Linked DNA regions of Homo sapiens: region 2 is linked to region 1. Evidence: fine-mapped QTL for protein levels in blood plasma. A gene starts in region 1. The other region holds a variant in brackets. All regions are shown on one strand. Distances are between the middles of the regions. Region 1 holds the start of SEMA4C (semaphorin 4C). Region 2 overlaps AFF3 (ALF transcription elongation factor 3).

Evidence for each region. PIP is the posterior inclusion probability: the model's chance that the variant is causal. The UK Biobank Pharma Proteomics Project read protein levels with antibody pairs (Olink). The fine-mapping took linkage between variants from a reference panel, not from the people measured, so its PIPs are less certain.
Region 2: its variant is fine-mapped to the plasma level of the SEMA4C protein (UK Biobank, PIP above 0.99).

The regions. Positions count from the first base shown.
Region 1 is chr2:96,866,088-96,874,309 of GRCh38, forward strand. It overlaps SEMA4C (semaphorin 4C), which reads right to left and starts at 3,993. Exons shown (of 15, transcript NM_017789.5): 1 at 3,789-3,993; 2 at 1,691-1,836; 3 at 196-344. The coding sequence starts at 1,799. LOC124908044 (collagen alpha-1(I) chain-like) reads left to right here and starts at 2,287. Exons shown (of 3, transcript XM_047446878.1): 1 at 2,287-2,331; 2 at 2,498-2,662; 3 at 2,941-5,036. The coding sequence starts at 2,287. The coding sequence ends at 3,948. RefSeq lists enhancers at 1-582, 7,152-7,652, 8,219-8,222 and silencers at 2,516-3,135, 3,186-3,345, 3,666-3,765, 3,786-3,855, 3,886-3,985 and 1 more.
Region 2 is chr2:99,765,183-99,773,182 of GRCh38, forward strand. All of the region lies in intron 8 of AFF3 (ALF transcription elongation factor 3), which reads right to left. Among named protein-coding and RNA genes, the nearest start is that of REV1, 280 kb to the left of the region's middle. The variant G/C (reference allele first, on the strand shown) is at 3,312.

The DNA of each region.
Region 1 (8,222 bases):
CCCACTACACAGAATTCAGTAAGTGCCAGAGAGGAGAGGAATGCCGCATGCTGACCCCAACCAGAGGGCAGGCCCCGGATGCCCAGCAGCACTTCTGTGGGGGCAGCCAGGCTGAGGGACCACCTAGCCAAGCACAGCCCCTCTGGGCCTTGCCCTCTGGCAGGCCCGACTGCCTCCCACTGCCCCACCTCTCACCGCTCCTTGCAGCTCCAGGGCCTCCATGCTGAAGGCAAACAGGGCCTCTCGGGCGCCCACGTACAGAAGCCCAGTGGGCTCCGTCAGCGTCAGTGTCAGGAAGTCCTGGATGCCGGTCTGGGAGAACCGCCGTACTACCGTGGCCAGCTCTGCAGGGGTAAGCATGGCTGCTGATGGGCAGGACCCCTGGGGCTCGACAGCCCTCAGTCTTGCTCCACGAGAGCCAGCACCCCATGCCACAAGCAGATGCCAGCCAAACCCCCTGATTGGCAATAAAGGACACTTTTGAAACAGCCTTTGGCCCTGACAGCCCCACCTGGGCCTCCCTAGCCTTTCCCAGCCTGGGAGGAGGCAAATCCAGGCTGCTGGGAGGAAGGAAGGATATCTCAGCCACAGCTTCCGGCCAGAGGAAGCCATCAGACTGATGGCTCTTGCTCTCAGGGTCAATGGCACCTCCGGCCGCAGGGCTGGGCACCCCCACCCCACCTTCGCTTCCTCGGCGGCTGCTTCCTTCTTTGCCCTGCTGCCCACTGCCTCTATCAGAGTCCAGCAGAGCAGGAGGCACAGACGGCTATGAGTACTCCCTGCCTCAGGAAACCCTTCACTCCAGCAGGACCCCAATCCAGGCTGCCAGAGATGCGAGCACAGCAGGCCACTAGGACAGGTGGGGATGGCAGGAGGGGAGCTGGGCTGTGAGCCAGGCCAGGGAGGTCCGGAGAAACCAGAGGCTCAGAGAGCGGAGATGGGGCTGGGGCCTGGGAAGTCTTGCTGCCACCCGGCATGCAGGGCACTACGACATTTATACAGTCACGTGATTCCTACATCAGCTGCCAAATATGGCTGCCGACCTGTCCTCAGGGTCCCCCCAAACCAGCCTTAGTCTTTGCAGGCAACAATGGATCCAGACACAGACCGGCATGGCAGGGCTTCACTGGCACCCGAGTGGAGCCTGTGGGAGGTGAGCTCATCCCAGGTCCCCAGAGCGCACGGCTGATACAAACACCTGACATCACCTTTCACACGGGTGTGTGCACAGGGAGCACTGCTGGGTCCCCGCTGTGCCCCGGCAACCATGCGAGCATGTGCACATACACACACACTTCCAGGGCCACCAGAGTGTATGATGTGTACAGGGCAGTAGGAGGTCTTAGGGGGGCCTGGGGAGCCAGGGGAGAGAGCCTCCAGTTTATATTTATCCCGGTTCCAGTTTCTCTTTAGGCTCCCAGCGCCAGTGACAATTCAAGAAGCGAGGCGTGGAGAGGGCGAGGCAGAAGGCTCTCCCCCTCCCACACCTGGGCAGGCAGTCTGGGGTGGGGAGTTGGACAGAGCTCCCCCAGAGGAGGCTAATCCCAGGTCCCAACCCACACTGCCCGTTCTTCCAACTCGAGTTTCTTAGAAAGCTGTGCCACACACGTGAGAATAAAGCCAGCACACTATGGGGGCAACTCCTCAGCAGCCTGTCCCTGACTTCCTCCTCACCCCTCCAGGCACTCACCCCCAGAAGACACTGTCTTACGCGGCACAAGGTTCCACCACACCTCAGCCCCAATGCCCAGGCCCCACAGCCTTGCTGCCAGCAGCCAGACAGCCCAGTGTGGGGCCATGGCGCACGCCCCGGCTCTGAGCTTCAGGCCAGCTGTCCTGCTGAGGGAAAAGACATGGTCAGAAATCACAGCCAGAGAAAGCAAACCAGAGGGGCCCGCAGCAGGAGAGGCCACAGGACTCCTCATCAGGCCTTCCAGGAGCCCCGGTGCCCTCCTTCCCCTTCTCTTTGGAGGTGGACCTAAGTCCCCACACTTGGCCTCTGCCTAAAAGACCACAGGTCTCCCTGGGAAGCGGGGAGGAGTTGAGTTGGCTGAAGGCTAAACAGGCTCCGGGAAGCCCTCCCTGGCCTCCAGACCCACCACTACCTCTGCGCAACAGGAAATCATTTGAGAAATAAAAAGGGGACCCCCGCCCAACATACACACTCAGGCCTAAGAGGTTTGAGTTTCTTGAAAGAACCTCAGGCAGCAGGCCTTGCAGCCACTGGGGCTCCGGACCCTGCCAACACCTAATTCTGGGAGGAAGACTCCTTAGGGCGACGAGGGCATGCGGTGGGGTAGGCGGTCGGGAAAGCCCCAAAGGGGAAACCTGGTGCGGCCGGCTGCGAGCGGAGGTCCCGGTCCCGGCCTGTCCCCTTCCCCAGCGCAGACAATAGCCCTGCAGAACCCCAAACCCCGTTCCACATCAGCAGGGCAGGAGTGTGAGAAGGGCCGGGAGCGAAGGGGCCCAGCTTCCCGAGGCCCCTTTGTTGCCCAAGAGGGAGGCAGGAAGTGGGTGGGATGGGCGTGGAAATGACCAGGGCCTCATCCTGTTCCTCGCACTGCCTCCTCCGAAACACCAGCCCTCTGGCGGAGGGGCGGTGGGGGGACCGAGCTCGGGTCGAGTCGGGGACTCCGGCGGCGCGCGCAGGCGACGGGGGGAGGTAGGGGCGGGGACGCGAGGGGGTTCCTCCCGGGCCGCTGGCAACGCGCCGCGCACGGCCGGCACCCGCTGCGCTCCCGCGACTCTGACGAACCTTCCCAACTCGGGGACTGCGCCCCAGGGACCCTGGCCTGGGCGGGCCAGCGGGATTGGCTTCCCCTGCTCCAGCCTTCCCGTGCCAGGGGCGGAGACGCAGAAGCTGGGGACCTGCTCACCCCCAAACAAAGGGTCCCCGCCAAGACCCCGTCCCGGGTCCCCCCGGGTTCTCCCCTCCCCCAGCTCCAGGGATTTGAACGCAAACAAAGCGGCGGCGCGGGGAGCGTGGCGAGCCCGGCCTGCGGACGCCCCCTGTCGGCCCAGAGCCCCGGCGCGGGAGAGCGGGGGCTGCGCCCCAGACCAGCCCCCCAAAACGCCCGCGGCCTCATCTCGGCTCCTTACCCGAGGATCGGGCCGCACCCCGTGGCGTGCTCCGAGGATCCGCCCGGCAGCGGTGCTCCCACCCGCAGCTCCCCCCAGGGCGAGGAAACGGGCAGCCGGGAGGAGGGGTTGGGGGGAGGGGTGCGGGATCCAGGCGGGGCACCCCACACCCTCGCCCACCCCGAGCGGCCAGCCGTGGACCGCGGCCCTCCCTGCAGGGCGAGCGCTCCAGCCGGGGACGGCGCGGCCCGGCTCGGCCCGGGGGCCTGGCTTTCCGGGACAACCCGCCTCCCCAGCGGAATGGGCGGGCGGGCGGGGGGCCGCGGCAGGGAAATCCGATCCCACAACATCGGCCTCCCTCCAAGCCCGCCCCAAACTTTCCATCGGGGGTGGGAGCGCCGAGGGCAGTCCAGGAGCCTGGCGAGGATCCCGGCCGCGGACCGGACCGCGCGAGGAACCCTCGCTGGCGCGCCCCTCCGGCCCCGGGGCTGCGGGGCTGCAGGTGCTGTGCGCCCCACTCCCGAGACCCTGCGAAGCAGCCGCGGGGGTCGCAGGAAGGATCCCCGCGTACAGCCGTCTCCGCCGCCGCGGCTCCCCGCGCCCCAGCCCCTGTCCCTCCCGCGTCCGGCAGCCCCTGCCCAAGCAAAGGGACAAAGCGGCGGCTCCGGGGCCCCGCGGCTCCAGCCTCACGCAAGCCCGGCCTCGCTCACCTATTGCGCGCAGCTCCAGTCCCCGGGCGCCGCCCTCGCGTTCGGCTCTGACCGCCGTCCACCCCTGCCCCCGCGTCGCCGCCTGCCCGCGCTCGCCCGCCAGCCCTCCGCGGCCTCTCTGCCACCGCCCCTCCGTCCCCGCCCGGCTCCGCGCCCCTAGGCTCGGGCTCCCCGCGCCACCACGGCGGGCGCCGGCTCTTTCTCCAGCGCGGCCGCGGCTCTCCGCCCCCTTCCCCTTGACGTCAGGCTGGGGGGGTCGAGCGGAGGCCGGGGGCGGGCCGCGAAGGCTCGCTCAGGAGGGGGCTGCGACCCGCAGCGACCTGTGGACCCGCCCGCTCTCCGCCCGGGGGCTCGGACCTCCGCCTCTCTGGGTGCCCGGACCTCAACCCCTCCGGGTGTCCAGCAGCCCCGGGGCTCGGAGTCGCGGGCTGCGCCACAGCGCCTGGAGGGAGGTGGGGCGGGGGAGGGACTCCGGGTATGGCCACGGGGGAATCACACTCACCCGATCTTTCTGAAGTGTCCCCCGAAGACTCCGGGCGGGCTGGGCTGGGGAGAGGGACTCCCGACCGTGCAGTTGCAGGAACGACCGCGGGCGAGCCACGTCGAGGCGAGTATCCAGGGGAGGCACGCTGGGGGAACCGAGGCGTCTTTTGGGGCGGACCAGAGGGGTCTGCCGTTTGGCCCCCAATTCTGCCTCTTTCTAGGCCCCGAGGACCACTGGTCCCTGCCCTCAAGTCTGGAAAGGGCTTCACCAGCCAGGAAGACCCTTCAATCAACAGAAAGGGCCTGCTCCTGCTTCTCACGCTTTGGGCAAAGCGCCTATCCCCAGAAAATGACTCCTCGTGCCACTGGAAGGCTGATTAACAAGTGGCATGAGCCCTACTGTTCAGATGAAAGGGGCTGTGGGGAGCCACGCTGCAGAACCACCGCCACCTTCAGAACCACCAGCCTCCGCCCACAGCCACTCCTAGAAGCAACTTGTAGCTCTGGCCTCATGGGCGGTGCAGCGTCTTTCCTGCCAGCTGGTCCTCTGAGCTGGGCAGGTGGTTAGAAGAGGTGGTCCTCATGGAGGACACCCCACGGGCACCTGGAGACAGATGCTACCTCCTGGCTAGGGGCAAAAGGCAGAGGTGAAGGGGCTTGACGTCCTGAGGTTTGGAGGTAACTTTAAGCCAGGGTGCAGTCCTGGAGGGGAGGAACACTTCAGGCTGCGTCAGCAGATCTGGATTATAAATCAGTCCGACAGCAGCTTTTGTTCTGGGTTAAAACTTGGCATCTGAAAAGTGGAGACCAGAAAAGTGGTGGAGATAATTGAGAAAAGCAGCCCAGTTTGGTTTCAGTAACAATCGGGTCTTTGCTGGTACACATAATGGCCCCTTCTCCCTTGCTGGCCAAAGCCACGTTTCCCAGCTCTTTTCCACTAGGAAAAAGAAAAAAAGCTGTGGCCTTGGAGATGCTGGAGATAATGACCATGGGGTGGGCAGGGAAGGCCTCCTGCTTCAGCTGACAAGGTGGGAGAAGGTGTGTCACCCTCGTGTTTAGTTTATTCCCCGTATCTATTCAAGCGGAGGGTAAACTGAGATGCAAGTGCCCTCACTTGTGTTCTGTGCTTTAGATTTTTGCAGCTTGTCTTGATGTACATTTTCTTACTTCACCCTTATGACCACCCTTTAAAAAGTAAGTAATTTGGGAGGCTGAGATGGGAGGATCACTTGACCCCAGGAGTTCAAGACCAGCCAGGGCAACATACTGAGACCCTGTCTCTACAAAAGAAATTATTATTATTATTTTTTTTTTGAGACAGAGTCTCACTCTGTCACCCAGGCGGGAGTGCAATAGCGCGATCTCGGCTCACTGCAACCTCCACCTCCTGGGTTCAAGTGATTCTCCTGCTTCAGCCTCCCAAGTAGCTGGAATTACAGGTGCCTGCCACCAGACCTGGCTAATTTTTGTATTTTTAGTAGAGACGGGGTTTCACCATGTTGACCAGGCATGCGCCACCATGCCCAGCTAATTTTTGTATTTTTAGTAGAGATGGGACTTCGCCGTTTTGGTCAGGCTGGGCTCGAACTCCTGACCTCAGGTGGTCCACCTGCTTAGGCCTCCCAAAGTGCTGGGATTAGCCACTACGCCCAGCCCCAAATTAAAAAAAAAAAAAAACTAGCGGGGCGTGGCGGGGAGGGGTGGCTCACGCCTGTAATCCCAGCACTTTGGGAGGCTGAGGCAGGCGGATCACGAGATCAGGAGATCCAGATCATCCTGGCTAACATGGTGAAACCCTGTCTTTACTAAAAATACAGAAAAATTAGCCAGGCGTGGTGGCGGGCGCCTGTAGTCCCAGCTACTCGGGAGGCTGAGACAGGAGAATGGCGTGAACCCAGGAGGCAGAGCTTGTAGTGAGCCAAGATCACTCCACTGCACTCAAGCCTGGGCAACAGAAGGAGACTCTGTCTCAAAAACAAACAAACAAACAAACAAACAAACCAAACTAGCGGGGGCGTGGTGGCATGCATCTGTAAGTCCCAGCTACTCAGGAGGCTGGAGTGGGAGGGTCGCTTGAGCCCAGGAGGTTGAGGCTGCAGTGAGCTGTGATTGTGCCATTGCACTCCAGCCTGTAGAGCGAGACCCTGCCTCGACAAAATTAAAAAAATAAGTATTGTTGCTCCCCTTTTGGAGATGAGTCAAAAAGATTAAACAACTAGCCCCAAGTCATGGAGATAATTAAAAAAGATTAAACAACTAGCCCCAAGTCATGGAGATAATTAAAAAAGATTAAACAACTAGCCCCAAGTCATGGAGATAAAAAGGTCAGAATTTCTTTTTTAGAAACGGGGTCTTACTCTGTTGCCCAGTCTGGAGTGCAATGGCACAGTCATGGCTCAATGTAACCTCAGACTCCTGGGCTCAAGCGGTCCTCCCACGTGAGCCTCCCAAGACTACAGGTGCACACCATCATACACGGGACAGGGTCTCGCTATATTGCTCAGACTGGAAAGTTCAGATTTTTAAATCAGGTCTTGGGACTCCCGATTCTGTTTTTCCACAGAGTCACCATCTATCCTGACAATGCTCCATTTCATGCTGTTTTTCCTCACCTTCAATACTGCTCCCCCATCCCCCCACCTCTAGGTGTGAAGGTTACCAGGAGAGACCTGAGCTCGCTGGCTCTGACTCCAAGGTGGCCTCAGTGGAAAGTTTCAAAAGGCAACCGGTTTGGTTTCACTGGCAGGGCAGCGGCAGGCGTTTGGGTTCTGGAGGCCCAGGAATGTAGAAGCCTCCAGCTAACAGACTCCACGCGCCTATCCTCCCAAACGCTCTCGGAGATAAGCTCCCAGCTCCCTCCCCTTTTCCACCTTCATGCACTTCCTGCTGTATTCTGTCCATTCCAGCACTGGCCCTTTCTGTGGGTGGGTGGGCAGAGGATACAATTTCCTGCATGACTACTTGCTCATGATTCATACTTCTAAATGAAAGTACAACTGATATAAAAAAAAGATTTCTGGGTCTTCAATTAATAAAAAAATTACTAATACAGGTACCGGGGGTGGGGGGAGGTGCACGTACCTGACTAGTCTCCCTAGGGCCTAGCATATCTATGGAAGGTATCCACACTTTGGGACTCAGGCCTTGACAACTGCTTGTGGTCGTGTCAAGGAAAGACACAGAAATTGTGCTAAATGACTCTCAAGGGTCTTCAAAGATCACCCAGCAGCTCAGGCCAGCCCCTAGAGATGACCTAAAGAGTCTTTCCTGAAAAGCAAGTCCCCCTTCCCATCTCTTGATGTTGGTTGGGGGCCACACTGCCCTTCATTTGAGCTACTCACCTACTAGCTCTCCTGAGGCAGCCAGAGGGAGGCCCTGGGTGGACACTGGGTTCTCTGGTGAACGCTGCCTGGTGGATTTCCAAGGCAGCCAGGACTGCCGTCATCCCACAGATGGGGAAGTGAGAAAGCTTGGGTCAGCGCGCCTGGGGACCGAGGTGACTAGGGACATAGGAAAAGGACTCTCCCTCCCTACTTCCTCCAAAGGAGAGTTATCAAAGCTGCCCACCTGGGATGTCTTTCCCTTCCCAGCCCCTCCCTGTCACCAGTACCAAAAGGAAGCAGGAAAACATCCGTCATCACAGCCCCGGATGCGGATTTTCCAGTGGCTCCTATCAGGATATCCCCCAGCCTTTTCCCAAGGGCTTAGGGATCTGGAAAAGTCAAAGATCTGGAGGGCAAGTGGTCACATTGCCAGCACCACTGTGAAAATCTGGACCTTGGGGAGGCTGAGTCTCTAACCGATCCCAGACTAGTTTTAGAAGATCTGGTCAGCTCCCAGCCAGTCCCAGAGAGGGCCCATTACACACCCCAGGGGACAGCATACGCCCTTGGGCGACCTCACAGTGCACACCTCTGCTCGGGTTACAGCCAGGTCTCTGGAGGGACTGAG
Region 2 (8,000 bases), 2.9 Mb after region 1:
AATAGATGATCGTTGAACTAACTGTGGCTTGCAACAATCAAACCACTCTTTCATATATACTTAAAGGAAAAAATGGCATTATTTGGGACAGACTGGAAGACTGTGGAGGCTGGAAGGAGAAGGGGGTGAAAATTACATTCTTGGCCACGTTTTCCACACAACCCATTCCTGAACCCCTTTCCACAGACAATTTGGAAATGTGCATTCAATAAAACCCCTGTCGCAATTGCAGAGAAGCAGAGGGTAGAAGAGATCGGGCTTGGAGTCAGCATCTGGGAAACCTTGTATAATTTTGGCCTTGCCATAAACCAGCAGAATGACCTCGGGCAAGTTTACTTTTCCGATTATTAGTGTCCTTATCTGTAAATTGGTATCAATCATTCTATCTTGCAGGATTACCTGAGTGGTTAGTGATAAATATACAAAGAACCTAGCGTAATAGCTGGCACATAGTAGGTGCTCATAAAAAATAATTATTGCTGTATTGCTACCTTTATAACTAGTGTTGACAGCTTCTGGATTCGACCTGGTGAGGAAAGGGGATAAATATAGAAGACGTTTATGAATTTGTTTTTTAATCTATTTTACTCTTTAATTATTTAATATTTAACTGGTTAATTATTCATAGTCAAACAGAAGGCTTAATAAAAATGTGCTTATTAAACAATAATTTGCTTCCTTAACTCCCTTCACCACTAAAGCAGCATGTCCATAAAGGGAAGGAAGAATGCTATCTCAGGGTCTGGAATTTTTCTTCAAAGGGATAGTTACTAGAAATCAGCATACATCCTCTTTCTAGTTTGGGGCTCTACAGATTAGAAGCTTTGCCCTCATGCTATAGACTACCCTTGCAGGCACCAGCTTGGGTAGTATAGGAGGTGTTAGGCAAGCTGGGAGTGTAGCGGGAGGCTACCTGGCTATGATGACAGGGCAGTGATTACTGTCCAGGCAGGTGGCTGAGCAAGGTGACAAGCCTGGGCAAGAATAAACCCTGGAAACTACTGGGGCCAGGATCAAAGTTCCCGGTCAGGTGGGACTTCTGGTTTACCAGAGGGAAGGTTAGGACAATCCTGCCGAAGGCACATGCCTTTCTCCCTTTCAAATGTTTCCCAGCTAAACCACTTCCAAATGAGCAGGCTTCTACTAACTTTATGCAAGTATTTTTCTCAGTTTTGAGAGGTGATTTATAAATCACTGAATGGCATTGCCCTAGGACAGCAGGGATGTCTCTGGGTCTTAAGGATGAATGTGAAGGCAGGATGACTTTATAGGAAACAGAAAATGTCTACTAACATGCTCCAGATATTGACAGTAAAATCCAGAGGCTGGAGGAAAGCTGGTTAGCCTTGGAAAAACCATCTTTTCTTTTTCTTTTCTTTCTCCTTTTTCAGAAATAAGGTTAAACTATCCTTAAGAATAAGAAGGAAAATATTAAAACATTCCCCCCCAAAAGTTCATAGATCTTCAAGAAAAGAGAAGTTAGGACCAAAATATAAACAGGATGACAACTGCTTTTATTTGAAGAAAATAGAGTTTTCTAGAAGACTGAATCAGTATAGCCTGATAAAGTGCTTATCCATTGGGAAAAGATATTCTATGGGAGCAAACAAATAAAGATAAAAGAGGAAGACATTAAATTAATAATGGCTAAAGAAGGTGAGAGCCTGAACTCACTTGCTAAATGTGTCTTTAAAGAGGGAGCCAACATGATCTCACAAGAGTCTCTATGAGAAGGTGAGAAGGAAGGTTCTTAGTACTCAAGGGCGAATAGGCAATCTACAAATTTCAGACCAATGTTTTTATCCCTTGATGTTCACTGACAACACAGACACAGTTCCCTGTTTTGAAAAGAGGTCTAACAATCATGCTGAACAGTCTGAGACTTAATAGAGCCAATCAGTTCAGTTTCTATTAGTGCACCTGTACACTCAGGCATGCGTTCAACCAAACACACATTTAGACACTCAGACTACTCTAGGTCTTGGGAAACAAAGCAGAATACAACAGACATGGCCCCTGCTCTCAGGAGGTGTAAGCACCATGAGAGGAGAGAAGCAATAAACAATGAACAAATACATGTAAACGCAACAGATCTATATTCGAACAGTTGCTGCATGGTTCTGATGGGTCTAATTAGCATTTTGGCAAAGAAGAAGCATGAGAAGGGCATGGATTCTGTGTCAGACATTTGAGGGGCTGGCTTGTGGAAATGACATTATGTGTGGTTTAAAGCTACAGGGAAGATTTTGGTTTTAATAAACTTCCTAACAATTTCTGTCACTAAACATTCCACAGGTGTTTTGTGCTAAGCACTGTTCCAGGTGGCTACATTCTGGTAAAATGAGGTAGACAGTAAACATGTATATGACACTATGTAACATCACACGTTGTAACCCAAAGCAGCATAATTTGGCATAATGTAATATAACATAGTAACCATTAAAGCTGTGCATCAGTAAACTGGCCATCACCATCAGTGAAATGGTGAGCTGCAGCTGGGTGCGGTGGCTCACGCCTGTCATCTCAGCACTTTGGGAGGCCGAGGCGGGCGGATCACGAGGTCAGGAGATTGAGACCACGGTGAAACCCCATCTCTACTAAAAATACAAAAAATTAGCTGGGTGCGGTGGCAGGCACCTGTAGTCCCAGCTACTCAGGAGGCTGAGGCAGGAGAATAGCATGAACCCGGGAGGCGGAGCTTGCAGTGAGCTGAGATTGCGCCATTGCACTCCTCGAGGCATTTGGGATCACAAGCAGAGTGGGATGTCTCTGGGAATCCCCAGCCTGGAGCAGCTTCCTCTGACTTTGGTGGAGCCACATGCAGGGCTCAGGGCAACTTCTGCTCTCTATTCTTAACCTTCCTTAATTGTTGTGTCTCAATATTTTCAGTCTCAATTCCTGACTCAATGAAGTTCTTAATTTCATATGTGATCCCTGGTGGGTTTGGGACACATGATTTCATTTTAGTTTTTAATTGAAAAAGTATTTATTGAAAAAGTATTTCCATAATATTTTCTGCTTAAATAACATATGCTTCTGGTTAAAAAGTTAAACATTGCAAAAAAAATAGCAAATGCAGGAGAGTGAAACCCCCCAGGATCCTAACACCTGCAGATAATGTCAATGGTGACCAGTGTTAAGCACTGGGTACTTATCTGATTTTTATATACATGCACTAAGATGGGGATTATATTAATATATGTATATTTAATGAGGTCATACTGTTTGGTGATATACTCTTTTTCACTGAGCATCTTTCCCAACACAACATACAAATGGGTCTTCTTTTTTGCAGTTATTATTTTGGATTG[G/C]TTCATCTTAAAAGTCTTTCTACCTAAGAATAGTTTACACACCATAGTTACAGTGTTGCAATATTCTGTTTTTCTGTGTACTTACTGTTACCAGTGAGTTTTATGCCTTCAGTTGATTTCTGGCTCATTAATGTCTTTTTCTTTCAGATTAAATATCTCCCTTCAGCATTTCTTATACGACAGGTCTGGTGTTGAGGAAATTCCTCAGCTTTTGTTTGTCTTAGAAAGTTTTAATTTCTTCTTCCTGTTTGAAGGATATTTTCACCAGATACACTATTCTGGGGTAAAAGTTTTTTTTCCTTTAGCACTTTAAATATGTCACGCCACTCTCTCCTGGCCTGCAAGGTTTCCGCTGAAAAGTCTGCGGCCAGATGTACTGGAGCACCATAGTATGTTACTTGTTTCTTTTCTCTTGTTGCTTTTAGGATTTTGTATCTATCCTTGACCTTTGGGAGTTTGATTATTAAATTTCTTGAGGTAGCCTTCTTTGGGTTAAATCTCCTTGGTGGTCTCTAACCTTCTTGTCCTTGGATATTGATACCTTTCTCTAGGTTCCGTTATTATACCTTTGAATACACTTTCTCCCTATCTATTTCTCTCTCTGCCTCCTCTTTAAGGCCAACAATTCTTAGACTTGCCCTTTAGAGGCTATTTTCTACATCTTATACCTGTGCCTCACTGTTTTTTATTCTTTTTTTCTTTTGTCTTTGCCGATCATACATTTTCAAACAGCCTGTCTTCAAGCTCACTAATTCATTCTCCTGCTTGATCTGTTTGGCTATTAAGAGACTCTGATGCATTCTTCAGTATGTCAGCTGCATTTTTCAACTCCAGAATTTCTGCTTGATTCTGTTTAATTATTTCAATCTCTTTGTTAAATTTATCTGATAGAATTCTGAATTCCTTTTCTGTGTTACCTTGAATTTCTTTGAGTTTCCTCAGAACAGCCATTTTGAATTCTCTGTCACATACCTCTGTTTCTCCAGAATTAGTCCCTGACACCTTATGCCTTATCTAGTTCATTTGGTGAGGCTGTTTTCCTGGATGATGTTGATGCTTGCAGATGTCACCGGTGTTTGGGCACTGAATAATTAGGTCCTTATTGTAGTCTTTGCAGTCTGGGCTTGTTTGTAGCTGTCCTTCTTGGGAAGGCTTTCCAGGTATTTGAAATGACTTGGGTGTTGTGACTGACACTGTATCTGCATTAGGGGGCACCCCAAGTCCAGTAACATTGTAGTTCATGCAGACTCACAGAAGTACTGCCTTGGTGGTCTCGGATAAGATCAGGAAGAATTCTCTGGAATACCAGACAGAAACTCTTGTTCTCTTCCCTTACTTTCTCCCAAACAAATGGAGTCTCTCTTTCTCCCTGTGCTGAGCAGCCTGGGGCTGGGGGTGGGGTGACATAAGCACCCCTGTGGCTACCACGACTGGGACTGTGCTGGGTCACACCTGAAGCCAGCACAACACTAAGTCTTACCCAAGGCCACTCCCTGGCTACAGCCTGTATTTGCTCAAGGCCCTAGGGCTCTATGATCGGCAGACGGTGAAGCCAGCTGGGTTTGTGTCTTTCCCTTCAGGGCAGCGAGTTCCCCCAGCTGGGTCCAGAGATGCTGTCTAGGAGCCAGGGACTGAAGATAAAAACCTTAGAAATCTACGTGGCCTTCTATTCCACTCTGGCTGAGCTGGCACTCCAACTGTAAGCCACAGTCCTTCCCATGGTCCCCTCTCCTTTCCACAGGCAGAAGAGCCTCATCCCAAGGCCACGACCACGACAGGCCCACAGGGATTACTGCCAGGCCACTGCCGATGTTAACTTAATGCCCAAAGGCCCCTCAGTCAAGTCGTGGTGAGTGCTGCCTGGCCTGGGACTCACCCTTCAGGGCAGTAGACTCCCCTCTGGCCCAGGGAAGGCCCAGAGATGGTATCCAACAGCCAAGGCCTGGAATCAGGGACACCAAGAGCCTGCTTAGTGCTCTACCCTGCTGTGGCCAAGCTGGTACCTAAGGTGCAAGACCAAGTCCCTTTTACTTTTCCTTCTGCTTTTCTAAGCAGAAGGAGTCTCTCACTATAGCCACCACAGTTGGGAATGTGGTGGGTCTCACCTGCAGCCAGCAGTCTCAGAGTCTCACCAAGGCCCATGGCATATGACCTGGGTATCACTGCTGGTTATTCAGGGACCAAGGGCTCTTTAAGTCAGCAAGAGATGGATCTTGCCAGGACTTGGTCCTTCCCTTCAAGGCAGTGTCTCCTTCTGGCCCAGGGTGTCTCTCTAGAAATGTTTTCTGAGAGGTACGGCCTGAAAATGGGGCCTCACAGCTCTGACTGGTACCCTATCCCTCTGTGGCTGAGCTGATAACCAAGATGCAAGACAAAGTCCTCTTTACTCTTGCCCCTCCTGTCCTTAAGCAGAAGGAAGGGGTCTCTTTTGAAGCTGGGAGCTTTGTTGCCTGGGTTTGGAGGAGGGGTAGTGTAAGCACTCCCTATTCACAATAGCAAAGACATGAGATCAACCCAAAGGACCATCAGTGGTAGACTGGATAAAGAAAATGTGTACATATATACCACAGAATACTACGCAACCATAAAAAGGAACAAGATCACGTCCTTTGCAGGAGCATGGATGGAACTGGAAGCTGTTCTCCTCAGCAAACTAATGCAGGAACAGAAAACCAAACACTGCATGTTTTCACTTATAAGTGGGAGTTGAACAATGAGAACACATGGACACATGGATGGTGGGGAAAAACACATACTGAGGCCTGCCATGGGGGATCATCAGGAAGAACAGCTAATGGATACTGGGCTTAATATCTGGGTGATGAGTTGATCTGTGCAGCAAACCACCGAGGTACACGTTACCTATGTAATAAGCCTGCATATCCTGCATATGTATCCCAGAACTTAAAAAATGAAGAAGAAAAAAAAAAAAAAACCAGAGCAATTCACACTCAACAGCATGCCAGGGAAGATGTCTCAGCCCTGGTGTCCTGACAAGAGCAGTTTCTGAATAGGAAGAAGGCTGGCACAAATGGATACAGCAACACATTCTAGAGATGCAAAGTTCCAACAAAAGCATTTTAAAGGTCACCTTGTTTATATAATATTTATGTTTTAAGACCTTATGATTCCCCCAATATTTCAAAGCTCTCAGAGACAAAAGAATAACATGGTATAAAGAAGTGGAACTCGGAATGAGGAGACGTGGACTCTGGTTTCAGAGCCACAGGAAACTGTGGAATCTGGAGGTGAAGACAACCCCAGGAAGTGACGTATTTCTAAATTTTCTGATGAGGACACCCGGCCCCAAGAAGTTCTGTGAGCTGCCCAAGGCCTCTCAGTCACTTGTGATACAGCCAGAATGCAGGGCAGGGGCCACTGTGTCCTTCTATGTTCCTTCAGTCTGCAAAACAGCGATAAGAATAGCTAATTGGGGTTTTCTGAGAAGTTACTGTATTGGAAACCATAAATATGTCATTTAATGAAGAACAATGAGCTTCGGCAGGATTTCTTAAGTGTGAATGCAATCGACATGCGGTATTCCTGCCTTCTTGGTTCTCTCGTCTCATACTCAACTCTGGTCCCCTTTCCCATCCTCCACCTCAGAAAACAAGAAGTGGGACAAAATAGGAAAGGAGAGAAGAGGAAGAATAAACAAGAAGTGGGACAAAATAGGGAAGGAGAGAAGAGGAAGAAAAGAGTGACGATGAGCCCCGGGCGAGGTGGCAGGGGCCTGAGAGGCAGGGAAGGCAAATGGGGAGCTTTGTTCTGACCAGGCCGTGTGCTTGGTCTGTGGGGCCTCTGGCTTCCCATGGGTGAGTCCTGTGAGAAGAACTGTGATAGTCTAAGTGTCTGCCAAAAGAAGGGAGTGAATTAGATGCAACCCATTCCACCCTGCCTCAGGAACAATGTACACACAAATACATGTCAGGATTCTCTCTGAACTTTACACAGAAATTGCCTGGCTATGTTCAGCTCTTCTCAGGGAGAGAAACAGAAAGTATTTGCTCTGGAAATCTTGTATCAATATATAACCAAGATCTTAATGTTTTCAGACTTGCCCCTTCCTTTTTCTAGCATTTGTTTTTTCTTCTGTATCTCCTCAGGAAGATATGGTGGCAATTAAAAGAAAAATTATTCTGAACAGCCTGAAGTGATATGGCTAAGCCTAGCACCACTTTTATTTCAGAGTTAAACAACCATGACTTAATTCTCAAATTGCTTCCCAACCCTGGGAAGTTAAGGTCCTAGTCTCCGGCTAATTCTAGAACCATCTATCATTAAATGAAGTTGAACACAAAGAAGGGGCGACTGCAGCTAAGGGAAAGGCCGTCAATCCTGACACCAGATTAATCTTCCCCAAATGCCTTTCCTGCCTGAGAGGGTTTGTGGCTGCTTGTTAGACTAGATCCAAGTTCTCAGCCTTGTCTCAGGCCTGCCTGGCCATTGAGTGTCTCACATGCTTCCCACCATTCCTCATGGGAGCCTGGGTTCAGACCGGCCAGGTTCCCACTCCCGTTCACAGGAAGGAGGCTCTGCGACTTTCACCTGCAGGCTCTGCTCACCCGTTGTCACTTCCCCATCCACATCCTACCCTTCTATCACATCTTCCTTCAAGAAGACTCACACTGTTCAGGAAACACCTGCTCACTGCCTCCTTAAGTTCCTTTCTCTAAATGTCTACAGTGT